Linked DNA regions of Homo sapiens: regions 1, 2 and 4 are each linked to region 3. Evidence: fine-mapped expression QTL. A gene starts in region 3. Each other region holds a variant in brackets. All regions are shown on one strand. Distances are between the middles of the regions.

Region 1 (8,000 bases), 980 kb before region 3:
GTATTTTTCCTTTCCTTTTCCCCTCACATTCCTATTTCTTTGGGCAACGTGGTGGGAAGGGGTAACTTAAAGCAAGAGCTCTGAACAAATATACATACTCTCCACATGCAGCCATTCAAGTCGGAGAATGCAGGCTGCTAGAGGGTCCAGTGGGAACCCACTCCGTAGGCCTCAGCCTGAAATATGGGATGCTTTGTATACTCAGCTTGACGTGGAAGGAAGGGTTGGGGCTGGGGAGAAGGGAGAGGATGTGGATGGAGGAAAGAGTGCGGGTCTGAAAAGGGCTGAGAAGACAGCCTGTGTGAGGCTTTCATAAAACCACACTGCGTTCTTTTAATGATAACGATAAAGAAAACCCCCAACTTCATAAAATTCCATTAATTCTATAATTTCCTTTCTTCGATAAGAGCAAAGAATAAAACAACTCATTACCTCTACTACCAACTAGATGTTTGACCTTGAAAAACGACTTAACATCTCTGGTTAAAAAAAAAAAAAAAAAAGTGGGTTGGGTAAGACAAGCTCTAAAATTCTGATTTTATTCTTCTGGTTGAAAGAAAACAAAACAAAATGAAACAAAACCTTACTATACATAGACTAAAGCTCAATTTTGGCCCCACCTTTGACTAAATGATGAAAAATTAGAATGGGGAATGGTAAAATAGACATTTTTACTGTGTGAACAATACAAAATGTAAAGGAATTTAGAAACAAGTCAACTACACCACATTAAAAAAATGCCTGAATTAAGATGAAATAAAAGTGATAGCAGAGTCTCTTTTATAGTCAGGGAAGGCTCCCCAAACCTTGGTGAATGGAAACATGGCTTACTAGGAACCAGGTCTGTTCTTGGTTAAGGCTAAGGTTGGATAGGGAGAAGGGGTCAGGTGGGTGAGAGTACTGTGGTGGGTAACAAACAGCATACATTTCCAAAGTGGCGTGTGCATAGTTAGTCTCTGGTTAAGAGCCCAATGAATCTCAACATTTTTTTTTCTTTGAAACAGGTTGGAGGTTGCTCAGGTTGGAATGCAGTGGTGCAATCATAGCCTAGAACTCACTGGCTTAAGCGATCCTCCCACCTCAGCCTCCTGAGTAGCCGGGACTATAGGCACATGCCATCGCACCCGGCTAATTTATTTATTTATTTATTTATTGAGACGGAGTTTCGCTCTTCTTGCCCAGGCTGGAATGCAATGGCGCAATCTCGGCTCACCACAACCTCCGCCTCCCAGTTTCAAGCAATTTTCCTGCCTCAGCCTCCCGAGTAGCTGGGATTACAGGCATGAGCCACCATGCCCGGCAAATTTTTTTGTATTTTTAGTAGAGATGGGGGTTTCACCACGTTGGTCAGGCTGGTCTCGAACTCCCGACCTCAGGTGATCTGCCCGCCTCGGCCTCCCAAAGTACTGGTATTACAAGCGTGAGCCACTACGCCCGGCCTTATTTTAAAATTTTTTTTGAAGCAAAGGAGTCTCACTGGGTTGTCCAGGCTAGCTTCAAACTCCTGGCCTCAAGTGATCCTCCTGTCTTGGCCTCCCAAAGTGCTGGGATTACAGGTATGGGCCACCACACCCAGCCTCAACTATTTTTTTGGTTACAGATTCTATTTGAAAATCTGATGAAAGCCAAGAACCATCTTCTGAGGCAAATGCACAAGCACACAAACAAAACTTTAAATACATTTTCAGCGGACTCCTGGGCTCCTTTAAAGTTCCTCTGCAAATCCTGTCGTATCTGTTAAACACAACGTAAAACTTCCTGTTCTGGGCCTAGACACTGGAACATCTATTTGTTCTTCCATTTGCCTTGAAGGTTTGTAGTGTTCCCATGTTCTCAAGAAAAAATGTCTTTTTCAATTAAAAAATAACCTGACTCTCCCTGCACACCCAAGCAATTCTGCAGGGAGTCTGGTGTGTTCAGCTCAAGAGAAAAAGGTTGACGAACAGAAGACCTGCAGCTGCAGCCCTCATGGCCTGAGCACCTCCAGAGGTGGGGCTTGTATCCTGAGGCTGAATTCGGAACTGTTTTTCCACAGGAGAGAATTCCTACCAGTAAATAAGTCTGTGTCCCCTCCTACTAGAGACTGCCCTCTTTCTGACCTACTTCATCCACCCTTTTGACCTGCCTTCCTTCCTGAAGAACTAATAGGAAACATGGTACCTGGTGAGGGGGAGGACCGGCAGGAAGCAGCCTCCTGGAATGTCAATGATGCTGGGACAAGCACACCTACCCCATTCCCATTCAGCAGGCAGCCACGCTACAGCGCAGGGCACATGTGCATAGCTGAAGGTCAGGATGAAGTCAGACTGGCTTTCAGCCCTGAAACTCCACTGTTTCAGGGTTGCAAGAGTGAAACCGTCTAGTACGTCCACTCTAATTGGCACTGGGCTACTGAATGATAAGAGACGGGAATGTGCTTTGAGGCCCAGTGCACACCACCGAGTCAGTGCTGGTTACGTTCGAAGGCACTGTGTTGTGGAGCCCCAAGTGGCTAAAATGGCTGGCTTCTAGAGGGTCTGTGTCCTGGCCTCGAAGACATCTTAGAGGCTGTCCTGCAAACGTAATCAACTTCACAGCAGCCTGCTTCTCAGAGCAGTTGGTCATCCTCTATCTTCCTGCTTCTTCCAGACTGATTATGAATCATGTTTGAAGTGGAAGGAAATGGTGGCTTAGGGGCAGATTCTCCCCGACTTCCTGCTCCAGCCAATCTCCCAACTAAATGGGTCCAAAAACCTCTCCTCAAGAAAGTGACAAACGAGGCACTAAATCAGAGGAATTGTGAATTCAATCACTTAGCCTGAATGGAGAGAGCCTTACAAGATGAATTCCATCACATTAAATAGCTTGACTCATGTCAGGAGAAAGCAGTCTACAAACCACTGGAAGGAAAGCTTGAAAAGATGGTTTATTAATTGCACCTGCTCTGTCTTATCCCTGGGCAGGGTAGGCTTGAAACCCATGTCTTCAGCATTGAAGGAGATGGAATGGAATGTTCCATGGGTAAATATGTGAACAAGATTGCCAACCTGATTTCTCATGAAATAAAGCAAATAAGGAACAGGGCAGCACCATTTTTTTTATTAGCAAATTAATTGCTTAGAAAAAAGAATCCCATTGTCTCAAGAAAAAAAGTCCTTAAGAGCCAAACTGTTCATCTCAATTTCATTTGAATTATTATTTGAAAGGATTAAGTCTGTTAAAGTGACACTTCTCAGCATTGCATACTGAGATAGCAAAGCTGCCTAACTTGATTTTTCTAAAATGTTCCTCCCTTCATCTTTTTTTTTTTTTTTTTTAGAAAAGAGAATATAAGGCTGGGCATGATGGCTCATGCCTGCAACCTCAACACTTGTGGAGGCCGAGATGGGTGGATTGCTTTAGCTCAGGAGTTTGAGACCAGCCTGGCCAACATGGTGAAACCCTGTTTCTACTAAAAAAACAAAAATTAGCCAGGTGTGGTGGCATGTGCCTGTAATCCCAACTATTCGAGAGGCTGAGGTGGGAGGATCACCTGAACCCTGGGGAGGTTGAGGCTGCAGTGAGCCATGATCGCACCACTGCACCACTCCAACCTGGGCAAAGGAGGGAGACTCTGTTTCTCAAAAAAAAAAAAAGAAAGAAAAAAAAAGAAAGAAAGGAAAGAAGAAAAGAAAAGATAATATAACTTAGGCATCTTAGACCTGTTGGTTTGGCTATAGCTAGCAACATGCTTAACCAAAGAAGGACCCAGGGAAAATGAATTTGCTGGAGAATATGTCTTACCAAAACAGTCTTAATTAAAAAAAACCAAATCATGATAATATGGCTAAGTATAAACAAGAAAAATTTGGGTAGGTCCCAGTATAGAATAGGCCTCGTTCCTCAACTATATCAGAAGTTGGGAAAAATAATGAAGAGGGGGACTGATTCTTGGTTTTGTATTTCACTTTACAGTGAACTCAATGGCAAATCTAGAAGAAGCATATTGTTTTGGTGCTCTAGTTTACTAACGTTTATAGTTGGAAGAAAAATAATTACTTCAGCAAGATGGGGTTACAAAGAGTCCTGGACTTAGAATAAAGACGTGATTTCTAGTGCCACCTCTGTCTCAGGTGATTTCATTGGTCAAAAGGGAGAAACTAGGGACAGAAAATGTGCAGCATGCACACTTCCTTGCCTTCATGCCATGCTCATGGCAGACATCACTAATCGATTTAGCCTTTGATGCCTTCATGGCCCAGAATCTTCAATACAAGCCTCCAGGCAGCCAACTAACAAACCATAGATAGCAGGACAATCGAAACTTATTTGCCATCTCTAGACTAGATGATCTTTAAGGTCCCTTTTAGCTCTAACTTTCTAGGATATCTTCTGCAAATTATTTTCATATTCTACTAGGAATCTACTGAGGACAAAACACATATGGACAAAAGGCCAGGTGCGGTGGCTCACGCCTGTAATCCCAGCACTTTGAGAGGCCGAGGCGGGCAGATCACAAGTTCAGGAGACTGAGACCATCCTAGCTAGCATGGTGAAACCCCGTCTCTACTAAAAATACAAAAAATTAGCCGGGCGTGGTGGCGGGCGCCTGTAGTCCCAGCTACTCAGGAGGCTGAGGCAGGAGAATGGCGTGAACCTGGGAGGCGGAGCTTGCAGTGAGCTGAGATCACGCCACTGCACTCCAGCCTGGGCGACAGAGCAAGACTCCATCTCAAAAAATAAAAAAAAAATAAAGAAAAAAATTAAAAAAAA[AC/C]CCAATAAAACACATATGAACAAAAATGCTTTATGATGTTGCCACAGTTGGGGAAAAAAACATAGCTTAGTAAATTGTTTTCATGTTTCAGTGATTAGAGAGTCTCCAGACAAAACACATGGTATGTTCTGAAACTAAGAAACTGTTGCCGTAGCTGTGGCTATACATCAACTGCTCATCAACCTTGTTGATCAACCCAAAATGACAATAATCTCAGACAAGCCAATGTCAATTTATCAATTAAGTAGCTAAGACTGGTAACAGGTAATGTTATGTATCACTTACATATTCCCTACACCGAAGGATTTAAGTTACCTTAAAGGACCAAAAGGATAAAGGATTTAAAGTACCTTAAAGGACCAAAAGGATTTAGGGTACCTTTAAAAGATAACAGGGAGGGGGGAGGATTTTTAAAATTATTGGTAGAAAAGAAGGAAAAATAAACCATGTGGGTATGCACAGTGGAGATGGAAATGAAGTCTGCCCATCACTTAACCACTTATTTATAACAGATGGGCCAGGAAGCTGGCTCTAGGCTTCCAGCAGCCACGGTGATGATGGGAAGCTAAGCAGTTGCACAGTTCATGGGGGTTGCAAGATAAAAGGAAAACCAACTCTTCAAAAAAGGCTCAATTATTCGTAACTCTGCAATCAGAGTGTTATTTCTCCCAAGGATCTACATAAGCAAAACAACACATAGCACACTAAATAATATTTTTTTCTACTCATTCATTCAAAAGTCCTGGCATTGGTGTCATAGGGTTATTAGAGCCTCTATCTGCAGAGCATATGGTGCTGTTCTAAACTGGAATACCAGAAAGGCTAACTCTGGTTCTCTGCTGGTTTGTCTTACTCCAGATCCTCTGGAGTAGCATTTCCCAAACTGTGTTCCAAGGGATCTATGAAATGTTCCTAGGTGTTCTGTGGTCAAAGCTGTTTGGTAAACACAGCATAATATTGCCCTCTCCACTGCTTTGCTTAATTTGATCTAATCCAACACTTTTCAAACAAAATCCTTTATCCTAGTGGCGTCTATTAATATATTACGAAAAGACTATTCCAGGAAACATTTCAGAAAATGCCAATCTAGAGAAAAAGGACTGCACTTATTCCTATTTTTGGAATCCTTCTAAAACATTGTTCCTCTAAGTGAAGTTTGGAGAGCTACCTAATGGCAGTGAGTTTGAAAGGCATTTCCTGGAAATTACACAGAAGATGTTGATTCTCGGTTGCTGGTTAGGAGTGGAAGCGTGTGTCTTAGCAGAAAGTCAAGCTGTATGTATGGACAAATCAAGACTCTAAAAGCTCTAAGTCCAACCTTCTAATTGTTTAGGTTCCACAACATCAACCCCAAAATGCAAGTGCTGATATGGGTCAATGAAAATGGAGTCTTCAAGAACAGAGCAAGGGATCACTGTGGAGGGGTGAGACTATCAGTGGGAGGAATGAGAAGTTATAAACACAGCTCAGCAGGGGCAGCAGTTGCTCTGGACCACTCGGATCCCTCTCTTTGACCCCTTTCCTTCTTAGGGAGCGCAGAGGAGGGTGGGCCACTCAGATGGGTCTCTTGTAGGCCTTGAACTTGGGGCAAGAGGGGAAACTGAGGCTCACTCACAGTCCTGCCCAGTGCACTGGTGTTGGTGATTAGGCCAGAATTTGGGACTCAAGTGCAATAAAAAATGTACATCTGCCTAGAGTCTGCTTTGGAAACCTAGGGGGTCAATTAGGGAAATGGATTCCAAGACACAACTTCTCTTGGAAACCCAACTAACAGAAGTCCTCAAATCCATGAAGCACTGACCATAAATAGGAAGAACCACCACCTGCCAACTACCTGGGGACAGCCATGCTACCTTCCAGAAGTAATTACTATGTCCCAATCTGAAATTCAGAAATCAAATATCTACCAAATATCAACAAACCAGACCCTTAATGAGAGGCAGGGCAGAATGATGTGCAAAGCTCGTTGGGTGGTATGTTTGCAGGCAGCGCAACAACCTGATGGTATCTTGCAGCAGGTTATTTCTGAAGTTCCTATGATATGCTCCTAATGGGTATAAGGATGTGCTGACTTCCAAAGTGGGACTGACAGGCCCGCAGTTAACTGTCATTCCCATCACAGACTTAATAGCTTTGCCAGGCATCCTCCCAGCAAACGAAGAGAAGAAAGGTCTTGCTATATGACAGCATTCAAAAAGAATGCATGTGAATGCCATTATGGTATTGAAAGTGTCAGGTGCCAGCAGAAGGGCCCTGATCAGACAGACAAGCATTGGGGCTGCATGCTTTAAGGTTATTTGAAGCCTGTCATTCCCATTAGCTAGCTAACCACAAGTGGAATCATTCGTTAGCTGGCTTTCTTTAGCACCAAGGTGGGGCTGAGGGTGGGGGTGGAGGTGGGAGAAGGTGGAGAGGCCTGGGCTTGGCACTTTTAGTTCCTACCCTATTAGCAACTCATGATGGCTGGCAAAGGAAGGGGGTGCACACAGGCAGGGGTGCCCCATGTGCCTGCTCATTAGTGGCTGGCAGTAAAGCACAGAAACGAGTGGACATTGGCACAGGCTGGCTTTCTGTTCCTGGAGAAGGCCAAAAATAATCTCAGTAGATTTAATTAAAACTGCAGTGAACAGATGGGGAAGATGGAAAGAACTCCAACTGGAGACCACTCATCTGTCTAGGTCTCTGCGAGCGTTTTAATAAAGCCTTCGCTGTCTGCAGGTCCCAGTCCTGACACATCCCTTTCTGGTTATGCAACCGAGCGGAACGATTACCCAGCAACTCCACTTAAAGCGGCAGGGGCCTGTTTCCCAAGGAAAAGGATGGCTTGACTCAATCCAACTACTCCTACAGTAAGGCAACAAGCCTACAAATGAACAACCTCTCTGTCCTATCTTGATCTAATCCTAAAGCGAGAACAGGTAATCAGGTGCTCAGTGAAGTTCTCCTCCTACAGAGGGCTAGTGGTGGTGGCCATGAGGGGGTCGGGGAGAAGGGAATCCAGTAGCCGTCTTGTGATTTAAACCTCTAGGTCCAGCTAAAACAAAGCAGTCCTGTTCAAATTGGGCCAGTGGTCTGCCCTAGTTAGTGGCTCCTTTCACAGTTTTCTACAGTGCAGCAAGCCAAGGGAGAATGGCAGGAGACAGTCCTAATTCACCATGAAAGTTGAAACCCAGCCTGTGTTAAAGTTAAAACCCAGCATGCATGCACTCTTTCCTGATTGACTGATTTTAATGGAAAAGCCCAAACTTCTGGTGCTAAGAGCAAAACA
Region 2 (8,208 bases), 310 kb after region 3:
CTCTAGCCTGGGCAACAAGAGTGAAACTCCATCTCAAAAAAAAAAAATTATTATTTTGGGGTGGAGAGGGAAGTGGGTGGAAGCAGAGGTTGACACAAGATTGATCCGTAGTTGTGAGTTACTGATATTTGATGAGGTACATGAGGGTTCATCATGGTGATCTCTGTAAATTGTGTGTTCTTAAAATTTTCTATCTAAAATGTTAAAAAGTTATGGAGTAAAAATCCTTATCAAATTGCCTGTGGTAGTGTCTGGGTTCAGTTTTGTCTTTCCCTTTTAAAGCTCCCTAGGTGATTTTAATATGCAACCCAAATTCCAGAACCTTCTTTGATTTTCCTTAACAACCTTTCTGCACTGGGGTTTGGAACTCAGTCCCTCTAGAGAGACGCCGTCCTGGGGAGGCAACTCTCTCCCTTGTGATGGACTTCATCTCGAAACTTTTTCATTTACTTTGGTTTCAGGGTTGCAAGATCTATTTTTCTATTAGTTTTTCTAATTTCCCCAGCTGGTTTGAAACTTCAGGAAGTTAATAGCCATTTTGTATTTGGCTTATTTTGCCCTCGAGACCTCGGAGAATGCCTGCCAGTAATGAGCTGACCCATTTTTAGAAACAGGGTGTGGTTCTTAAGACTTCGCTGTCTCTTTCCTTCAAACAGGAAATGCTCATGTTCATGGGCATCTGCTTGGAAATCAGTTCAATTCAATTTTAAGATGCTAGATAGGCCAGGCGTGGTGGCTTACACCTGTAATCCCAGCACTTTGGGAGGCTGAGGCGGGAGGATTGCTTGCGACCAGGAGTTTAAGACCAGCCTGGGCAACACAGCCACTCCCTAGCTCTACAAAAACTTAAATGAAAAATTACCCAGGTGTGGTGGCACATGCCTGTAGTCCCAGCTACTCAGGAGGCTGAGGCAGGAGGATCACTTGAGCCCAGGAATTCAAGGCTGCAGTGAGCCATGATCACTCCACTGCACTTCAGCCTGGGAGAAAGAGTGAGGTTCCATTTCAAAAAAAGGAAGGAAGGAAGGAAGGAAGGATGGAAGGAAGGAAGGAAATGCACGCATGGCTGTTGGAGGGAGTTAGCAATCATTCAGGAGGAGGAAGCGAGTGTGAGAAATTCCTAAGGGGAGGCCAGGCATTGTGGCTTACATCTGTAATCCCAGCACTTTAGGAGGCCGAGGCAGGGGAATCACTTAAGGTCAGGAGTTCAAGACCGCCTGGCCAACATGGTGAAAACCCGTCTCTGCTAAAAATACAAAGATTTGCCGGGTGTGGTGGTGCATGCCTGTAGTCTCAGCTACTCAGGAGGCTGAGGCAGAAGAATCACTTGAACCCAGGAGGTGGAGGTTGCAATGAGCTGAGATTGTGCCACTGCAGTCCAGCCTGGGTGACAGAGTAAGACTCTGTCTAAAAAAAAAAAAAAAAAAAGAAAGAAAAGAAAAGAAAAAAGAGAGAAATTCCTAGGAGGCCTCTTCTTCTACCCACCTGCCTTGAGTTTTTAATCAGATCAGGGAGAGCCCTGTGGGATGCAGTTTCAAATGAGCCCCTCATGAATGGAGGGCAAGGACTGTTTGTACTGGAGCTGATGAACTCCCAGGAAGACTGTGGACCCAAGGACCACCCCTTAATCCCATGCACAAAATGCTGGACAAGAACAGAACTTCCCCAGAGTGGGACAAGAATGTTGGGTCTATCAGCTCCGTCTAGCAACACTGGTTGGGTGCAACCTACACAGTCGCACAGGGTCAGGCACTTGGTTGATGCTCTGCTATCGCTGTCTTGAAATTCGTAATCATTTTTAAATAAGAGGTCCTACATTTTCATTTTGCACTGGCTCCCTGCCAATTTTGTCCTGTTGAGAGGAATGATTTTGAATGTGATGTTGTGGGGAGGGTCAAACCATCTCTTGATTCAGGCCCAAAAGATCTGGTAACTTGGAAGCCTAGGGGTGTATTAAACAAAATTTTCTTTCTTTTTCTTTTTCCTTTTTTTTTTTTTTTTTTTTTGAGAAGGACTTTCACTCTTGTTGCCCGGGCCGGAGTGCAATGACACGATTTCAGCTCACCGCAACCTCCACCTCCTGGGTTCAAGCGATTCTCCTGCCTCAGCTTCCCAAGTAGCTGGGATTACAGGTGTGCACCACCACGCTCGGCTAATTTTTGTATTTTTAGTAGAGATGGGGTTTCATCATGTTGGCCAGGCTGGTCTCGAACTCCTGCCCTCAAGTGATCTGATTGCCTCGGCCTCCCAAAGTGTTGGGATTTCAGGCGTGAGCCACTGCACCTGGCCCTTCATTTTCAAATATGCTGAATAATAGGATTTAATTAAAAGGGACATGATTGAACATCAACATAGTAGCCAAAATAGCCTCTGAAAAATTATTTTACAGCAGCAGTTCTCCAAGTGAGGTCCCTGGACCAGCAACAATCAGCATTATCCAGAAAATGTGAATTCTCAGGCCCTACCCAGATCTGTGGAAGCAGAAACTCTTGGGGTAGAGCTTAACAATCTGTGGGTTAAGAAGTCCTCTGGGTAATTCAAATGCATGGTAAGGCACCTCCCCTTGCACATTAAACCCTGTTGAATTATGAATTGATCTGACACCCTCCCACATGTGAGAACCTGACTGTTTACAAAGGAAGAGCTTTCCCACCCCCTGGCTCATCTGACTGTTTACAAAGGAAGAGCTTTCTCACCCCTGGCTCATTTGTTGTGATTGACACCTGGGCCACCACACAGCCCTCTTAGCTACTTCTTATTGTTCCCAGTCTTTAAAATCTACCTCATGGAGTTTTCATCAAGTTACAATTCCACCTAGCAGAAGATTACAGGAGAAGAAGTAGAGTAAGAAATGCAAATGGGAGAGCTTCATGTGAAAAAGGACAAAAGATGGAGGGGATATTTGGTTGATTTTTGCCAGCTATTGCAGTCTCTTTCTCATTTATCTATCATATCTATGTATCTATCCATGTATGTATATATGTATCATCTATCTATCATCTATCTATCTATCTATCTATCTATCTATCTATCTATCTATCTATCTATATTAGTCTGTCCTCAAGCTGCTATGAAGAAATGCCCGAGACTGGTTAATTTATAAAGAAAAGAAGATTAATTGACTTACAGCTCCACATGGCTGGGGAGGCCTCAGGAAACTTACAATCATGGTGGAAGGCACCTCTTCACAGGGCGGCAGGAGAGAGAATGAGTGAAAGCAGGGGAAATGCAAGATGCTTATAAAACCATCAGATCTTGTGAGACTCACTCATTGTCACGAGAACAGCATGGGGAAAGCTGCCCCCATGATTCAATTACCTCCACCTGGTCCTGCCCTTGACATGTGGAGATTATGGGAATTACACTTCAAAGTGAGATTTGGGTGGGGACACAGAGCCAAATCATCTCTCTATCTGTCTCTAT[C/ATATC]TATCTATCTATCTATCTATCTATCTATCTATCTATCTATCATCTATTTATCTATCTGTATATCATCTATCTATTATCTATCATCTATCTGTGTTTGTCTACCTTTCTTCTATTTATGTAACTATCCTCGTGTATGACCTTCTGTCAGTCTGTCTGTCCCTCTGTGTACCTGTCTCTTTGACCGTCTACCTATATGTCTGTATGTGTATCTATTCATGTATTTGCATTTTGTTTTTTTGAGACAGAGTCTCACTCTGTTGCTCAGGCTAGGCTGGAGTACACTGGTGCGATCTTGGCTCACTGCAACCTCCGCCTCCCAGGTTCAAATCATTTTCCTGAGTAGCTGGGATTACAGGCATGCACCACCACGCCCGGATAATGTTTATATTTTTAGTAGAGATGGGGTTTTGCCATGTTGGCTAAGCTGGTCTTAAACTCCTGAACTCAGGGTGATCCGTCCCCCTCAGCCTCCCAAAGTGCTGGGATTACAGGCGTGAGCCACTGCACCCAGCGTACATATTTTTTTTAACTGAGATGAAGGATAATGGAGAGTGAAAAGGAAGGGAAAGAGGGGGAAAAGGACTTGAGTAAAATTTGTAACCTCTAGGAGCCTCAGATTCTTCAGATGTCAAAGAAGCATGTGTGTGAGTGGGGGTGAGCGAGTACAGATGTTGTTGTGTGTGTGTGTAAAACTGTCATTTCACAAGATTCTCATCAGGCTTTGGTGAGTACATTTGTTCCAACAAATCTTCTGACCCACACACAACGTGGTCAGTTAATGGGAATAGCAGTTGAGCCTGAAAGGGGAAGGAATGGGGGACAGGAGGGGAAGGAGGGGACTGTGAGGTGCAAGCTGATCAAGAGGGAGGAGGTGGAGAAGGCAGGAGAAAAGCGCATTGCAGGAAAGACAATTGCAGAGAAGAAGATTGCAGGTTCAGGGCCAGGCTGAGGTGGCGGGAGCAGGTTAAGTCAAATGATTACAGACGGTGAAAGGGGAGTCGAAGGTGGAAGAGCCTAGAGGTGTTCTAATAAAGACATGCCAGAAATAAGGGGGAAAAGCACTTTTTATGGCAGCAGCCAAAGAACCTAAATGAACATGTCTTTAAATGAATTGCTGTTGATGTTTCATGAGCCAAAATGTGCCAAGACTGCCTGGGGATGCTTCTCCCACCACTTTCCCACCCACTCCTGACCAAGTCGTGAAAATATATACCTGCTTCTCTCTCCAAGTCGTTCTGCCAACTAATTATCTGTAAAGATTCAAATCATGAACTGAAACACCACAGCTTTTTATGGGCACTAGGGGAGTATTAAATAGGGAGATTGGAAGCAAAATTAAAGTTCCCCCAATAGATTTTGTGGGGGGATTGATAAAAATCTGCTTTTAATTAAAAATATAAAGAAACAAGACCTCCTATGCATAAACAGGGAAGTCTTTGGGGCCTGGTCCCATGGGCAAATGCTGACAGATGCCTACTGGGATTTCGGCCTCTGCTGCCTGGTTTGTGGGCCTCCGGGAGGAGTGATTGATGGGCTGGCTGGATTTTCGGCTGAGAGGCCTCGCTAATAGATACACGAAAACAGAGGCTGTAATGCAGCTCACAAGATGAAGTAATGCGCTTGCCTCTGTCTAGGTGGGGAATTCAGCCAAGCCCTGTGTTTTAAAGAAAATGAGGCTTTTGTGGTTCTTGGCATGGGCTCACCAGTGCAGGCTAACCTTGGCACCCGTGTGCTAGGCTTTCTCTAGCATGTGGCTGCGGGATTGACATGGGCTCAGAGACTATCCAAGGGCAAGGATACTGGGTTCTGGGGACTTTCCACCTCCAAGCCTGTTCCTGTGTCATCAAAGGCATGGCGATCTACTTAGTTGCTCAAGCTCAAAAGCTAGGAATCAGCTTTCATTCTTCCCAAATCGCAAATGTATCTTAAATCTGTTCATTTTTCTCTGTTTTTCATTGCTACCACCCTATGTCCACCACCAACATCTCCTACCTGAATTCTATAAAGACCTCTCAATTAATCTGTTATTTCCATTGCTCACCCCTCCCCAATCCACCTTCCTGCTAAAGTCCAAATAATTCTTTTTTTGTGCAATCCTCGGCAGGAAATACATTACAGCCCAGTGCTTCCTACAGGAACTGAAAAACCAGATGGCCTGGATTTGAATTCCGGCTTCCACCTCCTACAGGCTCTGTGAGCTTGGCAAGCTCCTTAACCTCCCTGTGCCTCAGTTTCCTCGGCTGTAAGATGGGGACAATGGTACCTACCTCACACAAATTTTTGAGAATTGATTTGGTGTAAATAAAGTACTTATAACAATACCTGATAGTTAATGTTAATTTACTATACATATAAGTCTTAGTAAACATATGCACCTTGCTATAAATACAATGGCTAGCTATTATTTTGCTTATTATTCTCATCAACTTCCCCTTACTTTTATTTTTATTTATTTATTTATTTTAGAGACAAGGTCTTGCTCTGTGGCCCAGGCTAGAGTGCAGTGGTGTGATCATAGCTCACTGCAGCCTCGAACTCCTGGACTCAAGTGATCCTCTCACCTCAGCCTCTAGAGTACCTGAGACTACAGGCATGTGCCACCATGCCCAGCTAATTTATTATTTTTTTTTTTTTGTAAACACAGGGTCTCACTATGTTGCCCAGGCTGGTCTCAAACTCCTAGCCTCAAGTGATCCTCCCATCTTGGCCTCTCAAAGTGTTGGGATTATAGGTGGGAGCCACTGCGCCAGGCTCCCCTTGCTTTTAGACAATCCCAGACTTCTCTGCATGACTCCAAGGCCATGCATCATGTGGGTTCCACTGGTGTCTCCAATCCCTGGTTCTCTCACTCACTGTGCTCCAGCCACACTGGCCTCTCTGTTCCTCAGAGCAGGATAAGGAGCAAGACTAGACTGATGATTGAGAGCTGGTGTCCTTGTCTGCAGGAGGAGGGTCCCCAGGGTAGGGCAAGTAGAGAGGAAATGGGCTCACCTATTGCTGACTAGAGGGGATGTGAGGCCAGGGATCCTGGTGAGCTCTGAACTCCCCTTCATCGTGATTATACCTCACAGGGTCCATGACTGTGGTTTAGACCTAAAAATGCAAACGGAGGGCTGGGCAAGATGGCTCACACCTGTATAATTCCAGTGTTTTGGGAGGCTGAGGTGGGAGGATCGCTTGAGCCCAGGCATTGACGATCAGCCTGGGCAACGTAGTGAGACCTCGTCTCTAAATAAATTTTTAAAAATTAGCCAGGTGTGGTGGTATACGCCTGTATTCCTAGCTACTTGGGAGACTGAGGTGGGAGGATTGCTTGAGCCCAGGAGTTGGAGGCTGCAGTAAGCTATGATTGCACCACTGCACTCCAGCTTGGGTGACACAGAAAGACCCTGTCTCTAAGAATAAAAATTCAAGCAGGAAGAATGAGATCATAGCAAACACTGGTTTTTCCAGGGCTGCTGTCATCAAGAACGTGAACTGGATCTGATTGTGGAGCTTTTCCCTTCAGTAAGCAATAATTAAACGCCTATGATGCACAAAGCATCAGCTAGGGCTGAAGACATATATCCCATCCATTCACACATTTATTCATTAGTCCACAAATACTTACTGAGCATCTTCTATGCATCAGGTACCAGTTTAGGTGCTTGGGTGTATTAGTCTGCTCTCATGCTGCTGATAAAGACATACCTGAGACTGGGTAATTTATAAAGAAAAAGAGGTTTAATGGACTCACAGTTCTACATGGCTGGGGAGGCTTCACAATCATGGCAGAAGGTGAAAGGCATGTCTCACATGGCGGCAGGCAAGAGAGAGCTTGTGCAGGGAAACTCCCCTTTATAAAACCATCAGATCTCTTGAGACTTGTTCACTACCATGAGAACAGTATGGGAAAGACCCATCCCCATGATTCAATTACCTTCCATTGGGCCCTTCCCATGACACATGGGAATTACAGGAGCTACAATTCAACATGAGATTTGGGTGGGGACACAGCGAAAACATATCATTGGAATATGTCTGTGAGCAAAATAAAGATTCCCATTCACAAGGAGCTTACTGAGTTAGTGGAGAGAGAATAAATCTCCACTTAAAACAATAAGTATAAATATAATACATTTTTATAATATGATAAATGTAATAAAGATATATTATTTAATATATAATATAAAATACAATACATATAGTAAATAAATTCATGTATAACAAATTATTCTGGGTAACATAAAAAGCACAGGAGGGTAACAGGAGTACAGGGGTGAGGTGCAGTTTTAAATATGGTAGACAAGCTAGGCCTTGCTTAGAAAGTGACATTTGAGGAAAGCCTAAATGGAGGTGAGTGAGTGATCCAGGCTGCTCTATGGTGGAAGAGATTTAGGCAGATCCACCAGCCTTTACAAAGGCTTTATCCCCCTAAAGGTTTATTGAAAATCACTGACATAAGGCAGATTGATTACTAGGAGAAAAGGCATACAAATTTATTTAACATGTATACACAAGGGCCTTCAGAATAAAGACCCAACACCCCAGTGAGTTACAGAAGATTGTATGCCATCTTGGCAGGGCACAATGGCTCATGCTTGTAATCCTAGCACTTTGGGAGGCCCAGGCAGGAGGATTGCTTGAGGTCAGGAGTTGAAGACCAGAAGCTTATAGACCATTTTGAGGTTACAGAAAGAATGGAGGCCTGGATCCTGGTAAAACAGGTTATGGAAAAGGAGCAGGGAGAAGAATTCTGTTGAGGGGATTACTAGGGAGAATGAATGGATTGGGGAACTTGTAAAT
Region 3 (8,189 bases):
ACACACACATATATATATATATATATATACACACACACATATATCCCTACTTGTCCTCCAAAAATGTTCGTGGGAATCCAGTGGCCCCTCTTGATTGCTGAGCTCAGGATAACCATGCAGAAAGCAGAACCACTTGTAACCAGCTCTTACAAGTACTTTCCAAAACAACCACAGACAGCAATGATGAACCAAATTCCAAGCAGCATGTTCTAATAGGAACATGCTGCCATTTCAACTCCTATTTTAAAACAAGAGAGAGAGACAGAAAGAGGTCACACTGTATGGTAACCACCACCCACCTTGGCAAACTTAAAGCCACAGTTGGAATTATTCTAATAAGTGGTGAACCTCAACACTCAAAATTTTGGCCAATAAAGCACCAATTCTAGAACCAGAGAGTAACTGATTCAATCACTAACATCAAAATCTACGACCACCACCAATACCACCAACATCACCATCACCACCACCTGCACCACCACCACCACCACCAATACCTCCCTTACTCCCAACCACTGGCCACCATCCACCACCATCACCACCAGCAGCCCAAACCAAAAGCAGTTCACACAGAAAAGGACAACACTGATAGGAAGCCTTCCTTTGAAAAAAATATTTAAAGCTGACACCCAAACACATAAACAGAACCAGCAATCTAAACCTGTACAGTTACCGTATGTGAGATTTAAGCTGTCATTAACAAAGCTTGCATCTGAGCATGTGAAACAATACCATAATAACGCAAAAAAAAAAATGGAAAGGGAAAAGTTTCCTTCAGGAACCTCAAACCATCACATCAGGTGCATGAAACACTATAAGCCAACTATAAACCGTATCTTGGTTTTGTGCTTAAGAAAGGTGGACCAACTCTGCAGAATCTCAAAGCCTTCTGTGTGTGTGTGCATGGTGTGTGGGGGGTGGGGACAGGGAGGTGGGGGAGGAAATTAGGCGGTTAAATTTATAGAGGCCAATGACCAATACCACACCAAAGGAGACAGGTCCAGGCAAAGACAGTTTCCCCCCAACCCTGGACAGTCTCCCCCTCCCTCCCTTTTCCCTTTCCCCCTACCCTAGGAGCCAGTTGGCTGGAAGGAAAATGTGCATTTGAAAATCAACGCTGCAGGTGCCCAAGGAATAAAGAAAGACACACACATAGACACACACAAAGCCAATCACTTAGAAAGAAAAAAAAGAAAACACAAAAAAGGAAAGGGAGAGGGACAATTGGTGACAAGCCCTTCAGATAGCAGCTAGGATTTTATTCTTCCCTCCCACCAGTCTTCCCTGGTGTACCTTTTTCTGTCCTTTAACTAAATTGCTCATGTACACACACACATGTGCCTATGTATGTGTATAGATAATATTATAATTAACCCTTTCTGTAACAGAACCCCATACAGAATACAGAGAGCTATTCCACCCTTCCCTCTTCTCTCCCCTCCTCCCTCCTTTCTCCCAACCAGGAGAAAACGCCCCCTTCCCCAGCTTCACCAAAAAAAAAAAAAAAAAAAGAATATGGGGGGGTAATGGGGGGAGGCGCAAAGAAATCACAAAACCCCATCAGTCTCCAGTCCCGAGGACACCCGGGAAAGGTATATACTACACAGACACACACACACACACACACACACACACACACACGAACATATGACTCTGTAGAAAGCACACAGAACCGTCCACAGGCGCCCCAAACCCAGCAAAGAGACTTCCACCAGCCAAGAAGCCATGATTGGGGAGGGAGAGGAGGAAGGAGTGGGGGCAGAGCTCTCTGTGGAGAGGGGGCGCATTGTTGTGATGCCCGAACCCCTTTCTTTCTGCCCATCTGCTGTGGAGGGGGTGCAGGGAGGGGGCGCAGGGGAAAGGCGAGCGAGGAAACGAGACCAGGCACGGCTTTGCGACTCCCTCCTGCTGCCTGTCTGCCCGCGCCCCCAGCTCCCCCCACCAACAATAAGACCTCAGCCTAGACAGACAGACAGACAGACAGACAGACAGACAGCCCGGAGCGCGGCGAGGGAGGCAGGAGAGCCGGGCGCAGCCGAGTGGGGTCGTGCATAAAGGGAACCCGGGGGAAGGGGGGTCCCCCTTACCTCCAGCGCTTCAAAAGTGACAAAGCTGGTCATGGCAAATCCATCAATGATGTCCTCTTCTGCCGAGGTGGACTCTCTCCGCTTCCTCCGCGGGGGTCTGGGCCGGGACGGGGCGGAGGACGGGGGCTTCCCATTGTCTTCCTTGTCGGAGCCCGACGACGAGGCGAGTGAGAGCGCCCGGGTCCGGCCAGCCCCGCCGCCGCCGGCCGCGCCGGCCCCCAGCCCGCCCCGGGAGCGCCTCTCCCGGTCTCGCTGCGACCGCGACCGCCGCTTTTTGCGGAGTCCATGGCCCCGCGTCGGGCCATCCATGGTTCTGCTGCGCCGGGGTCTCCCCGCTTGCCCGCCACAGGCTACGGCCGCAGCCACACAAAAAAAAATTGACACCGAGCCCTCCCTCCCCCTTCACGGCTTCCCTCCGCCCCGAGGAGGGCGCGGGGGAGACGGCGGCCGAAAGAAGGGAGAGAGGGGAAGAAAGAGAGGAGAAAGAAAAGGGGGAAGGGGCGGAGAGAGGGGAGGAGGGACGGGGAGCGAGGGCGAGAGGCGAGGAGCCCAAGTGTGGGGCTCCCCACAGCACCGAGGGTCGGAGATGCCTGGGAGCAGCGCCGAGCAAAGTAATGGCTGAACACACAGGTCTCCTTTAGAGGAAAAAAAAATAACTCACCAAGCAAGCAATAAATCAGAATAGCGGAATGCTTTGATCAAGAGACTGGGAGGCTCCGGGGAGCCCTCCCCGCGGCCATTCTCCGCCGCGCCCCCCGCCCCCCGAAAACGCCCGCGCCCCCCTCAACTCGATCCAAAATCGGGTCCGAAAAAGGTCGCGGGAAAAGTGGGGGCAATGAACTTCACCCGCCCCTCGCGCAGGAAAACACCCCCGCCGCCTCTCACACACGCCTCGGAGAAAACTCACTCCCAGGCTCCCAAATTTTTAAGAAATGCAGCCAGGGGAGGCCGGGGCTCCGGAGCGACCCAAGAGGGGCGAGACCCCCCAGAGAGGGGAGCATAATAATGCAATCATTAGCGGAAGAGAGGGCGAAACTGCGAGCGGCGGAGGAGAAGGGAGGCGGAGGAAGGGAAGGAGGATGCTGCTGGAGCAGTTGTGGGGTTTGCTTTTCGGTCTTCGAGGGGGGAGGAGAGGGAGATGAAAGAAGAGAAGAAGCAAACCCTGTCGCTGCCACCCGCCCCCCTCCTCACAAAAATATTTTTTCCAGTCCCAGAGAAGAGGTCACCCTTCCTCAAAAAAGGGAGGGGGTGAGTCAGTCAGTCGATGAGGAAAGCAGAAAGAAATCTCCAGCGGGAGAGACACCGGTGTGCCGCCGCCGCCGCCGCCGCTTCTCTCGCCGCCCCGCCTGAGGGAGAAGCGCAGCCGGGAACGCTGCTCTCGCCGCCGCCGCTAACGCTGCTGCTGCTGCCGCCGCCGCCGCCGAGAAAGCCCCGAGCCGGAGGGTGCACGGCGTGTCCCCGGGCGGCTGCAGCGGGAGCCCGGGCACTGCCCCATCCTCCGCCCGCCCGCCTGCCTCGCGCAGCTCCCGCTCCTCCCCCTCCGCGGCCAGCCCACCGCCGCCGCCGCCGCCGCCGCCCGCCTCAGCCCAACCCCGCGCCCGCCCGCTCGCTCGCTCGCTCGCTCGCTCGTTCGTGCTTTCGCTCGCTCGCTCGAGTGCGCGCGCTCCCGCGCACCCGCCCTCCCCGCGCCTCTCTCGGCGCGCGCTCCCGCCCCCGCGGCCCCGGCCGGCGGGATCACGTGGACGGCTGGGCTCCCTCCTCCCCCGCCCCCTCCCCAGTTGTAGAGTGTGTAGAAAGCAAAAGGCTGGGGGCTGGCCGCGCTCGCGAGCCCAGGGCATGCGCGCTGGGGCGGCCGGGCCTGCGCACTGGGGGCGGTGGGGAGCTGTGAGGGGGGCGGGGGCGGGGGCGTGGAGGGGGCGCCCGCGTGGGGTCGGCCGCGGCCGGGCAGAGTTGGCGCGCCAGGGCGTGGAAGCCGCCGGAGGATCCCGCCTGTCGCAGCGGGGACGCGTGTGGGCCCCTGCTCCCAGGCCACTTCGCGCGCGCGCCCCCCACATCCTCCTCGGGACACTTGTCCCTGGATCCTCTACCCCTGGCCGGCCCGAGGCCGCCTTCTCGGGAAGCCCCACCAGCCCCCAAGGGTGTTTTCCCTTGGCTACCTGCGCTGCGAGGAGAGAAGGGAATTCAGAGAAGGGGTACAAGGGGGGCGTCCCTGGGAGGGGGCGCGACTGGAGGAGACAGAACGGGGAGCGGGTGCCAAAGCGCGGGCCTTTGCTCCGCCTGGGCGCAGTGGGAGCACCAACTGGCAGAGTTGGAAACTTTTCCTCCACGTGGCACCACAGTGCGTGGACGAGCGACCCCGCGCCCGGATGACCCCTGGGATTCCCGCCTCGTCTTCCAGCGGGGGACCTAGGGACGCACGGGCGGCTTCAGATCCGGGAGCGCGAGGCCTAACAGCCGGGGGCCGAACTTGAACCTCGGAGGCGGCCGCGGGCGAGGGGCGGGGCCGAAGGGGCCGGGACCGCCGCCCCAGCTCGAGGACCCGTTAGACCGGCAAACCGCAGTCCCTGCCCCGCGGGCTTCCTTTACTTTTTGGGAGTGGGGGGCGGTTTCCCTGCTTTTTCCACCACAGCCCCTCCTCCCGCCGCAATGTGGCTGATGCTCATAAAAAGTTGTATTAAAGAGCTGACTGCAGCCGAGAATCGATCAACAAAAGCGACCAGCCTCTCTGGGTAAAATAGCTGTGCGTTTTTCAGGGCACTGGAATTGATCTATACGGATCAGAAAGACCGACAGCCCGCTCTCAGCAGCCTCTTGGATACGCTTCACTTTCTGTCCAGGCACATAAACACCACGGCACCAACCCTTCGTCCTCCCTAGTAGCCCATACTTGTGGAGGAAGAAAAGGAAAATAAACTGGCATGTATTAATTACAATGGGCCAGGCACCGTGCTAGAGCGCTGTGTATATGATTTCACCTCTTTAGAATACAAATGTGCACATTTTATTAGTATTACTGGAAGGAGGGTGGTAGAGAAAACAGTAAGGACGTGTTTTCTCTCACAATCTGACACATCTATGATTGAGTGATTGATTGTTTTTCATTTAACAATTATTAGGCCTTACCAGGCTTAGCAGGCACAGTTGTAGGTGCTGGGAATACAGCGTTGTACAAAACAGAAAAGATACTGCTTCTTGACGTTCTAGCAGGCAAGCCTCTCTCGTCTTATAATTCCTAATAACAATTTAATAGCTTGTCTTTCTCTTGTTTTAGGTCACACTCCTTCAGCTTCCCCGTTTCTGAATCCCAGGTCTGGATCTTTATGAAATCAGATGGAGAGATGGGGTTGGGGGGACGGGGGGGTCAAGTTGCCAGGAACAGAAAGGAACATCCACCCGACTGTGACAGATGAGCTTTATGCCAGTCCAGGAAACAAAACATTTGACCTTAGGCAAGACTTTTTTAAATGACTAGTTTTTTCATCTGTAAATCAAAGAGGTTCAATTAAATGTTCAAAATGTTCCTTTTCAGGTCTATCCACGGCCTTCTCAACAGATGACTTCAAGTTGATTTCGTGCTTTATTTCTTAAGAATAGTGACTAACCTAAGGGATCTGATTCAATTTATTAGGAACACAGTGCCACCTTCCAAAATTACTTACCTAAGAGGACTGAGCCTGCTGTCCCTGGAGCAGTTAGCTAAAACAGTGCCTCAGTACGGAGCGTACCTGTGTTAACTTCTAGAGTGCTGTTTCCGGCAGCTGCTGAAATCCACGCTGAGGTTATCAAGCTCATCCTACAAAATAAAGCAAGTTCTTCGCAATTTAAAGCAAAAATCTGGGCTTATTTTTAGGGTTTTGGGGGATGTGAAAGTTGTCTTAGATAAGATTCCAGGAAAGCTAAGAACTAACGATGCAATTACAGTCACCTTTCAACAACTTTGGGGATTGGGTTGAGGAAGGTGTGAAATTGGGAAATATAATAAAAGGTATTATATTAGTGACTTTCTAGAGTAGCCCTTGGCAGTCCTGTCTTTAAAGAGTAATAACTGGAAAAAAAAATGAATGATAATACACTGCATCCAAGAACCTTGCCTCTGGTGAGGGTAATTTGCAAACGCATTTTGGGATAATGTTCAGCATTCAATATAATCTTCCCTGGAATTAGCAATGCCTTTTGGGTCAGAGTTTCTTAGGTTTCTTCAGTCATACAATTAAAATTGTTTCTGGATTATATTGCCCATATTTGTTTCTAATTCTCCATTTTGCCTGTGTTTTAACTGCTAGCGATTAATAACTGCCATATAATAAGCTAAGCATTTATTATGTTTCAGGCACTGTTCTAACTGCATTAAAATAATATCTCATTTAATTCTCATAAATTTTGAGAAAAGTTTTATTATTCCTATTTTACAGTTGAGTAAACTGAGGCTTAAAGTTAAGCATATTGTCCAAGGTGCCTCCACTCCTTAGTCATAAGCTAAATTTGATCTGAGTGACTCCAAAACCTGTTCTCTTAATGGTTATGCTGAAATGCCCTTCTTAGAATGATTCCTCAGGAAGTCAAATGCTAGGTATATAGTACAACCACTTTGGAAAACTGGCAATATCTGTTAAAGTTAAACATATGAAAACCCTATGGCCCAGCAGTTCCACGCTTAGGAATATACCAATGTCCCATGTGTGCCAAAAGACTATTAAATCACTCAGAGCAACCCTATTCATAAATAACCCCCAACCAGGAAACAACCCAAATGGTCATAAACAGTAAAATAGATAAATAATTGGTGGTATATTCATACAACAGAGTACATTCTACCACACTAAGAATGAACAATCTGCTTCCAAATGCAGTAAAATATATGAACCTTACAAATGTGCTAAGTGAAAAAAGGGAGATGTACAATTGCGGGACTCCATTTATGTGAAGTACAGAAACAGACAAAAGTCATTGATGCTATTCAAAGTCAGGATAGTGGTTACCCTTGAGAGAGAGCTGATGACTAGGAGAGAACACCAATCGGCTTCTGGGGAGCTGGTAGTGTTGTTTCTTGAGCTGGGTACTGGTGTGTTCAGTTTGTGAAAATTCATTGAGCTGTACTATTGATATATGCATCTCTGTGTATGTAAATTATGCTTCAATAAAAAGCTTTAAAATGCTGTGTATATATAAATGCATATGAGTATTGCTTGTGTACATATGAGTACCTATATAATACTTCGTTTTTTTTTATTATTAATGACACTACCCAATGCTTATGAATAGTAAAATAGATAAATAAGATGTGGTTTATTTGGGACATAAATGAAGCTGGAAGCCATCATTCTCAGCAAACTAACACAGGAACAGAAAATCAAACACCGCATGTTCTCACTCATAAGTGGGAGTTGAACAATGAGAACACATGGACACAGGGAGGGGAACATCACACACTGGGGCCTGTTGAGGGGTGGGGGGCAAGGGGAGGGAGAGCATTAGGACAAATACCTAATGCTTGCGCAGCTTAAAACCTAGATGATGGGTTGACAGGTGCAGCAAACCATCATGGCACATGTATACCTATGTAACAAACCTGCACGTTCTGGACATGCATCCCAGAACTTAAAATAAAAAAAAAAAAAAAAGATGTGGTTTATTCATACAATACTATTTGCCAAATTTGTGCCCACTCTTAGTCATCACCTCCCTATCAAGGGTAACCACTATCCTGACTTTTAATAGCATAAATGATTTTTGTCTGTTTTTGTACTTCATATAAATGGAATCCTACAATACATTTGCTGTACAATGGAATACCATATAGTAAACCAAGATGAATTATATAGCATATTATCAGATTTCTTACTGGGTAGCATGAAAGTTAAAGCTTAAACTTGAAATGGCCAGTATGAATGAACTCATAATTCATACCAGCAAAAGCTTAGGTGAATTCTTTGCCCAAAAGATTATAGTTGATAAAGAGTAAAGCTAAAGAAATAATTCCAAAATAGGTTGCTTGTATAGTAGGGAAAACAGTCAAGTGGTTCTGGAAAATACAAAGGGAAAAAGTTACATCTGTGTTCAGGAATAAACTACTTAACTCAGGAGAGCCTCTTCAGTTGTGCT
Region 4 (8,000 bases), 1.0 Mb before region 3:
TTGCTGAGGCTGGTGAAGGTCATGATCTTGAAAGAAATCTTGGGCTCCTGAGATCCCCTCTTACAGGTGTGTGTAACCCATAAAAGAATACTAGAAGGTCTGCCCACAACTTCCTGTCCCCGCTTCTCTACTTGTTCCTCTTCCTCTCAACATTCCCAGTCTTCTCCAGCAGTCTGCAGCCGCCACATCCCTGACACACACCACTCTATCCTAGCAAGTCACACCGTGTCTTTCTGAAGCACGAATTGTAATAGAATGTGAATCTCTTCATGCTAACCCTCGACAGTGGGCTCTCCTGTCCTCCTTTCCCCTTTTTAGACAGTTTCACATCTGATTAGAACTTTCCAGTGGGTAATGGCCACAGGTTGTAGGCTTTGTTTCATAAATCCTAAAACACCTGCACAGGACTGGACACAAAGCTGACATACTGAGGGATTCCTTAAGGAACAAAAAGAGCTGCCCTAAGAAGGATCTGAATAGACATTTCTCCATAGCAGATGTACAAATAGCCAATGAAAACATGAAAACTATGTTCAACATCATTAGTCATTAGGGAAATGCAAACTAAAACTACACTGAGATACCACTTCACATTCACTAGAATGGCTATAATAAAAAGGACAGATATTAACAAGTGTTGGAGATAATACGGAGAAACTGGAACTCTCATAAACTGCTTGTAAGAATGTCAAATGGTACAGTCACTTTGGAAAACAGTCTGGGAGTTCCTCAAAAAGTGAAACATAGAGTTAACATATGACTGAGCAACTCCTAGGTATTGACCCAAGAGAATTGAAGAAATATGTCCATACAGAAACTTGTACACCAATGTTCACAGCAGCATTATTCACAATAACCAAACAGTAGAAAGAACCCATGACCATCAATGGATGAATAAAGAAACAAAATGTGGTACTGTCTAAATAATGGAATATGATTTGTCCCATGAAGGAAATGGAGTACTGATACATGTTACAGCTTGGCTGACTCTCAAAACGTTAAGAAACAAGACAAAAGCCACATACTGCATTACTCAAGTTAAATAAAGTATCAAGAACAGGCAAATTCACAGTGACAGAAAGCAGATGAGTGGCTGCCAGACTTTGGGAGGGGGTGCAGAGAGTGATTGCTAATGGGTGTGGGATCTCTTTTGGGGATAATGAAAATGTTCTGGAAGTAAAGGCGAGGGTTGCAAATATACTAAACAGGTTATAAATATACTAAAAATTACTGAATTGGGCCGGGCGCGGTGGCCCGTGCCTGTAATCCCAGCACTTTGGGAGGCTGAGGTGGGCAGATCACTTCAGGTCAGGAGTTTGAGACCAGTCTGGCCAACATGGCAAAACCCCGTCTCTACTAAAAATACAAAAATTAGCCAGGAGTGGTGGCGGGCGCCTGTAGTCCCAGCTACTCGGGAGGCTGAGGCGAGAGAATCCCTTGACCCAGGAGATAAGAGGTTGCAGTAAGCCAAGATGGCACCACCGCACTCCAGCCTGGGCAACAGAGCAAGACTTCGTCTCAAAAACAAAACAAAACAAAACAAAACAAAAAACCTAAAAACCCCACAAAATTACTGAATTGTACACTTTAAAGTGGTGAATTTTATTATTAAGATGGACTGTGAATCATTTCAATAACAATTAGAAAACAAAACAAACAGAAAAAAGGCTGCCTTGGAGCAGTGGTTCTGAAACTTGGGCATGCAGCACTCACTTGGAGAACGTGTGAAAACACAGGTTGCTGAGCCCCACCCTAGTTTCTGATTCAGTAGCTGTGGGTGGGGCTCAGGAATGTGCATCTCTAATGAGTCCCCGGGGTGCTGAAGGTCCTGTTGGTATGCAGCCACATTTTGAGAACCAGTGACCCAGAATAGAGCTTCTCCCAACTTCAGTGCATGTGGTGGACACTGTGATGAGCTACCCAGATCCCTGTCTAATGACAGACTTGCTGCTGACTGCTGGGAGTGCTGTCTGCAGTGAGTTGAAAGGCCTGGCCATCCCTGCCCACCACAGACAACTTAGAAGGCTGACCTAGCTGTGTAGCTTCCCGTGTTGTGAGTGATGACTGTCACTGGGCCTGTATTGCTGCTTGACTTCTTGCTCTACCTACCTATTCCTGTTCCTTCCTCCTCCTTCCCATAGGTATTGATCCAAAGGGCACTCCTTAATAAATACGCCACTGGCTAAACTCCATCTCAGAGTTGGATCATGGGACAACCCCACCTGTCATAATGCATATGAGAAATCTGGGGAACCTGTCGCAGATTCTGATTCTATAAATCCAGGGATGGACCTGAGGTTCAGCATTTCTAACAGGCTCCTTGGTGATACCAATGCTGCTGACCCATGGTCCACACTTTGAGTAGTGAGGGCCTAGATGACCTCAAAGTACTCCTCCAGCTCCATAATGAGGAGACTCTATGAGCCATCAGGTCGAGTGTAAAGACAGAAAGATACCACATTTACTAGGTCATTAAAAGGTACTGAGATTACCCTGTCCTTGAGATCCAGGCCATGGAACTGGGTTACAGGTGAGTGTGTTCAACACAGGCCTTTCAGGTGCTCCCTAGCTAATCCCCTTGGACAGGGGCCAAGATCAACCTGAGTTTCTTTTTTATATGCTCTATTGTTACAGTACGGCTTCAGGGAGTTACTTGGGCAGAAGTGAGTAATCTGCATTGTGCAACCAGCAGACAAGTGCTGACTGATACCCACTACACAGCCTATGCAGGGAACCAAAGACGGTGGGAAGAAAGATGAAAGGAAAAGAAAAGTAGAGGCAGGGTGGTGGCCACCATCTTTTCCAGCATGTTTGCCCTCAGACAAACCTTGCATTTTAAGAGTAGTTAGGCCTGTTCATGTCTTGTTTCCAAGTGGGATCATTTGATAAAGAGTTTGGAAATCTGTTTTTGACCCACATCTGTTCCTAATTTACTGGGAGTCCCATACCTTGTAACTCAGTTTTTCTATCTGTTCAGGCTGACTTCAGATAAATACATAGGTTACAGACTCATATTCTCAGCAGGTTACAAAAAGAAAAAAAAGGGAATTTGGAAACAAATCTTAAAGATGTTATCATAGAAGGAAACTTTCACACCATCCTACCAAACACCCACTTGTCAGAAAGAGAATCTGGGGGTAGGCTGAGCCTTAGGGTAGCCTTGGGCAACATTTCTGAGAGGACAGCAATCCTTGAGCCCCTACTCCCTCTTTTTTTAAACCTCATCTAGCTATTACAACAGCTCACAGTCAGGTGTGTGATGGACGGCAAATGCATAGGGAAAAAGGAGCGATATGAAGTTGTGATCTTTAATCAACTCTTAGGAAAAGTTAGGAAACTTGGCAATTGTGTCATTTTTGAACGTTACAAGGCTCAAATTTCCATCCGTGTTGTATCTTCAAGCTTCTGCCTGTTGTACAATTTCATGGGAAATAAAAGGAGTGAATGTCTGCTGTGCCTTGGGCAGAATACAAACAGAAAAGGAGTGGGCGCTCAATACAGTAAACCTGCACTGAGAAACCGTGGTTCTGGAAGGACACAACTTTCTACACTTTTGCTAGATTTTCATGGTAGCAATGACAAAACAGGACTAGGGGAGAGGGGAAAAACCAGGGTAGGTAAGCCCTTAAAATTCTGGACAGTGACACTCTGTACTTAGGGACCTGCAAAGCACCTGGAAGGGCTGAGACTGGGAGGCACACATACAGCAAACGTCTTTCGATACCTGCTTTTTTCTCATTAACCAAGCGGATTTATGAATAAGCTCTGCAAACTTTAAAACGCATGCAGTATTCAAGATGCAATGCCCCTTCCATGCCACTCACTGTCTCTTCTGGAGTGAAATGCAACTATAATGGTGCTCCCTGAACCCACTTGCAATATGCAAGCTCTCTAGAGAAGGTAGTCCCTGATCATCCTGTTGAAAATCTAGACCTCGTGTAAGCAAGAAAAAGAAGTCAAGGTACAGAGTGGCATAAATATTGTTACTTGAAGTGCTAATTATCTACCAGTGTATTCAAAACCTAGTGATTTCCAAACCTGCTGGAGCTTCTTATGGAAATAAATATGTGCATCCCAATGTAGGGTTAAAAGGATTCCCAGAAACCTACACCAAAAATATAAGTAATTATCCTCTGAGCAGGGATTTCTCTCCAATTTCACTGCTTCCCACAAGGGGAACAATTTCTTGAGAACATAATAGTAAAGGAAACAATACACCACCAAAGAGGAAAATAACATCTTTATAATTACAGATTAGTTCCCAAATTGCACACCTACATACTCACTCTGCTTTGAATTTGAGTAACTTCGATGAAGCTTGTCTATCCCCTTCAGCTATCAACATTTACAGCTCAACAGCTCAATCACAAGATTTTCCATACAGAAACCCCAGGCTGCAAAAGCACTCTCAAATGACCCACTCGTTTCACTCTTGAAGAATGTGGAAAACACAGCGACAGAGAGCACAAATCGGGGTTAATACCCCGGCAGGAGAGAGGGAGCTCTGGTATCTCTAAAACAGTTTCAGTGTGCCAGTTT[T/C]AGAGATTACCCAATCATTTCTAAGCCGTTCAGATTTTTATCAGACAGGAATTAGCAGCTGAAAGTCTTGCTTGGCCCAAGCTGTTACATCTCTTTATCAGGAATTCATCTAAGTTTGCATTGCTTGAGCAAGGCACTCACATTCATTTCAACTCATTGGTTACTTACCCATTAAATGGGTTTCTTAACCATCACACTGGTTATTTAATTCCTACCCCATGGCTCCCCCAAGAAATAAAAAGTGCACTATAATTATATAAACTCTTAATTAAACTGAAGAATTCAGTGTTGCCATTACCAGTCAGTAATTCCACTCAATTAGGACAATAGACTTCCATTTATTACTGAACTCCTAATTGCTACTCATTTTCCTGGTTAGTAATTGCCAATCCTATCAGACAATGTGCTTAAAGAAAATTCTGCCATGAAATTATATTTCTCTCCATCACGGGAAAGGTGGAATCAGAGTCCTTACGTGGTCAGGAGTTGGGTCCTCTTCTCTAGCTCCATGCGTCTCCAGGCTCGGGGGTTTTAAAGGCTGGTGTGCCCCAGGGTTGGCTGCTGGTGCTGCGATCCGCGGGAGACTTGCCCACAAAGGAAAGGCGTATCCAGGTAGCCAGAGAATCCCAAAGCCAAACCTAGCCGAAGAGGATGCAAAAACAAAACCACCCGAAGCGGTCTCCGCATTTCCAGAAGACTAAGTTCAAAGTCTCCAGGCAGGGCGCATTTTAGGTCTTGAGGTGTACGTCCACGTCAGGGGGCAGGTTCGGCATCTGCTGCTTCTCAGCCTCAGGAGACTCAAGACGGAAGTCCGAGGGTGGCAGCCGTGCGGTACCACGGCTGGAGCCAGCCGGCCTCTGCCTCTGCCTCCCCGGGTCTGGCTTCCGAGGTGGGTTCGCGGGCACTGGCAGGTGCCGGGGAAACTTGCCGGCACGCCGTCCGCCGCCTCTGGACGCCCGGGCAGCCCCGCACTGGAGCTGGAACGAGTCCTGGCAGCCGGCTCCGCGGGAGCTCCCGGGCGGCGATCAGACGCGAGCGATCTACCCGCGGCTCGCGGATGCCTCGGCCCAGGAGCTGCGCGCCGCCCGCCCCAGCCCCGCCCCGGCCCGCGGAGCGCCCCGGCCCGCCTCGCTCCTCATGACCGTCTCCTAATTAGCTCAGAAGACTGCAACTCGCCGGCTAGCAAAGACACCCACGGTGGGGAAACTTGACAATTTATTCCCGGGCCCGGGGGAGGTCACCTGCAGTGCACCAGCGGATTGGCTGCTGCGCGGGTTGCGGCGGCAAAGCGCGCAGGCAAAGCGCGCAGGCAGAGCGCGCGCAGCTTCTGATCCGCTCTGCCATCCCGGCAAGGCACGGGGCGGGGAGGGCCGCCCCGAAGCAGCCCGCGGCTCAGTACCGTGTGAAAGGGACGGTGTCGGTGCCGGAACCACAAAACTGCCCCACCTCTCCAGATTGGGTGGTTTGGAAGAGATGCTCTTTGCTGTTTGGGTTTTTAGACGTCACACTCTGTCTTCCAGTTGACAATGGGCTCAAGCCATTTACAGCCGGAAGATGCTCTGAATGAAGTATCTACTCCAACTTCATGTTACAGAGGAGGGAACTGAAGCAGAAAGGATGAAGGAGCTGTGAAGGTGAGTGGGTGGAAAAGCTAGGCCTGGACGCCGGGTGTCCTCATTCCTAGTCTTTCTAAAGAGACCAGCCCTGCCCTTGGGGCTGCCTTCCTTACAGAGAGCTCCACCCTCAGGGGCATTCCCAGGAATACACAGCAGTGCACCGAGAACTCTGAAACTCTGGTGTCTAGCCCACAACCCGAGAGGTCAGTAAATCAGAGAGCATTATCTCCATCGTATACATTAAGACACTTAAACATTAAGTTTCTGAACTATGCCAACATAGTTCAGAAACTCCCCCGCCCCTGAGCTAGTTAGTAGGAAACGGAGTGGGCATGCAAACTCAAGCTTCCACAATAATTCCTGAATTTCAGCCACCACACCTCAACGCTCTGCCCAAGGAGGTGCATGGAAGAGGAATTCCTGGAGGGGCTGCCTAGAAACCAGTGGCTGAGGATGACATCCTTGCAAATGGCACCAAGCCCCCTAACAGCGGTTGCTGCAGTGCCAGCTTGGGACATCCTGACCACAAAGCAGCTGGTAATAATTCTTTTTTTTTTTTCTTGAGACAGTTTCACTCTTGTTCAGGCTGGAGTGCAATGGTGCAATCTCGGCTCACTGCAGCCTCCGCCTCCCAGGTTCAAGCAATTCTTCTGCCTTAGCTTCCCAAGTAGCTGCGATTACAGGCATGTGCCACCACGCCCGACTAATTTTGTATTTTTAGTAGAGGCAGGGTTTCTCCATGTTGGTCAGGCTGGTCTTGAACTCCTGACCTCAGGTGATCCACCCGCCTCGGCCTTCCAAAGTGCTGGGATTACAGGTGTGAGCGACTGTGCCCGGCCTCAGCTAGTAATAATTCTTATTGCCCACTCCATTTTAGTGCTTGTCACATCTGCTCCTCATCAAAAGTGAACACACTCACTCACCCCCATCTCCCACTCTCGCTGAGTCTATTCTGGCCTTTGCAACCTCCGCCCATACAAATGGAGGAAACTATCAAAGTAGGAGAGAGAAAAACAGCAAGCTTCAGAGAACTCTCTCTGTGCCAGGAGAGCTGAGAGCTGCTAAGCCTCTCCCTGGTCCTTGAATACACAGAGTCTAGAAGGGCTCCCATCCTAGTTGCCTTGTGTTTGGAATTTGAATACGCAGCACTCAGCATTTGAGGCATCCTGTCACTTTCCTGAGCAGAGAGTTGAGCCAGCTCACCAATGCTATCAAATCACCGGTTCTCTCCACTAGCAGCATCCAGGAACCCAGATGTCAGAAATGTAAATTATTGGGCCCATCCCTGAGCCACTGTATCAGAAACTCTAGGGGTGGGGCCCAGCAATCTGTATTTTCAAAGCCCTGCCCCCCAACCCCAGGGGATTCTGCACACACTCAAGTTTGAGAACCACTGCTCTAAAAAGCTACTTGCCAGGGTCACCTGAAGGGGACAGAGCAAAGGTCAGGGTCAAAGTGGGCAAGTTGCACCGTGTATCAAAAAGTGCCGCCCCTCCCCTCAGCCACAGTTAGAGGCCCTCTAGGGAGAGTTTGGAAAGGAAATGAGTAGGATTGAGGCATAGTATTCTTCTTCTGACTTTGAGGATCACTGGCCTGACCCCATCCTCCTGTCATCTCAACACTTGAGGGCACAACACTGAGGGCTGCCTGGGCCAGACTGTGCAGCCCACATTATTTTGCCCTGAGCAGAATAATGTTCTATGTTCTATGATGTTCTATGACGCTGTGCTTGCGCTGCTGGCCCCTGGACTGAAGTCTCCTGCTCAGGGTCCAGGGTTCTCCTGCCTCTCTATAGAATCATTCTGGGGAAATGGGAGCTGTTCAAGTGACTGGTCCTGACTGTGG

Alleles and levels. Positions count from the first base shown, and alleles are read on the strand shown. Sizes are in standard deviations (SD) of each study's normalised expression. Not every link is listed here.
With allele C in place of T in region 4, the expression in unexposed skin of the gene that starts at base 3,575 in region 3 is higher (small effect, 0.18 SD a copy in GTEx).

Evidence for each region. PIP is the estimated chance that this variant, and not a neighbour inherited with it, causes the effect.
Region 1: its variant is fine-mapped to the expression of AUTS2 in whole blood (INTERVAL, PIP 0.93).
Region 2: its variant is fine-mapped to the expression of AUTS2 in whole blood (INTERVAL, PIP 0.98).
Region 4: its variant is fine-mapped to the expression of AUTS2 in unexposed skin (GTEx, PIP 0.95).

What each region holds. Positions count from the first base shown.
Region 1 is chr7:70,574,541-70,582,540 of GRCh38, reverse strand. All of the region lies in intron 5 of AUTS2 (activator of transcription and developmental regulator AUTS2), which reads right to left. Among named protein-coding and RNA genes, the nearest start is that of GALNT17, 550 kb to the left of the region's middle. The variant AC/C (reference allele first, on the strand shown) is at 4,732.
Region 2 is chr7:69,280,490-69,288,697 of GRCh38, reverse strand. It overlaps LOC105375345 (a long non-coding RNA gene), which reads left to right. Exons shown (of 4, transcript XR_927650.3): 3 at 2,390-2,548; 4 at 5,528-5,744. Among named protein-coding and RNA genes, the nearest start is that of CT66, 310 kb to the left of the region's middle. The variant C/ATATC (reference allele first, on the strand shown) is at 3,424.
Region 3 is chr7:69,593,861-69,602,049 of GRCh38, reverse strand. It overlaps AUTS2 (activator of transcription and developmental regulator AUTS2), which reads right to left and starts at 3,575. Exons shown (of 19, transcript NM_015570.4): 1 at 2,088-3,575. The coding sequence starts at 2,396. CT66 (cancer/testis associated transcript 66) reads left to right here and starts at 4,426. Exons shown (of 3, transcript NR_148927.1): 1 at 4,426-5,003; 2 at 5,359-5,395; 3 at 5,617-7,246. RefSeq lists silencers at 2,262-2,331, 3,496-3,575, 3,596-4,015 and enhancers at 3,096-3,145, 4,326-4,405.
Region 4 is chr7:70,593,814-70,601,813 of GRCh38, reverse strand. All of the region lies in intron 5 of AUTS2 (activator of transcription and developmental regulator AUTS2), which reads right to left. It overlaps LOC124901668 (a long non-coding RNA gene), which reads left to right and starts at 6,266. Exons shown (of 2, transcript XR_007060375.1): 1 at 6,266-6,692. RefSeq lists a silencer at 5,459-5,658 and an enhancer at 5,228-5,729. The variant T/C (reference allele first, on the strand shown) is at 4,540.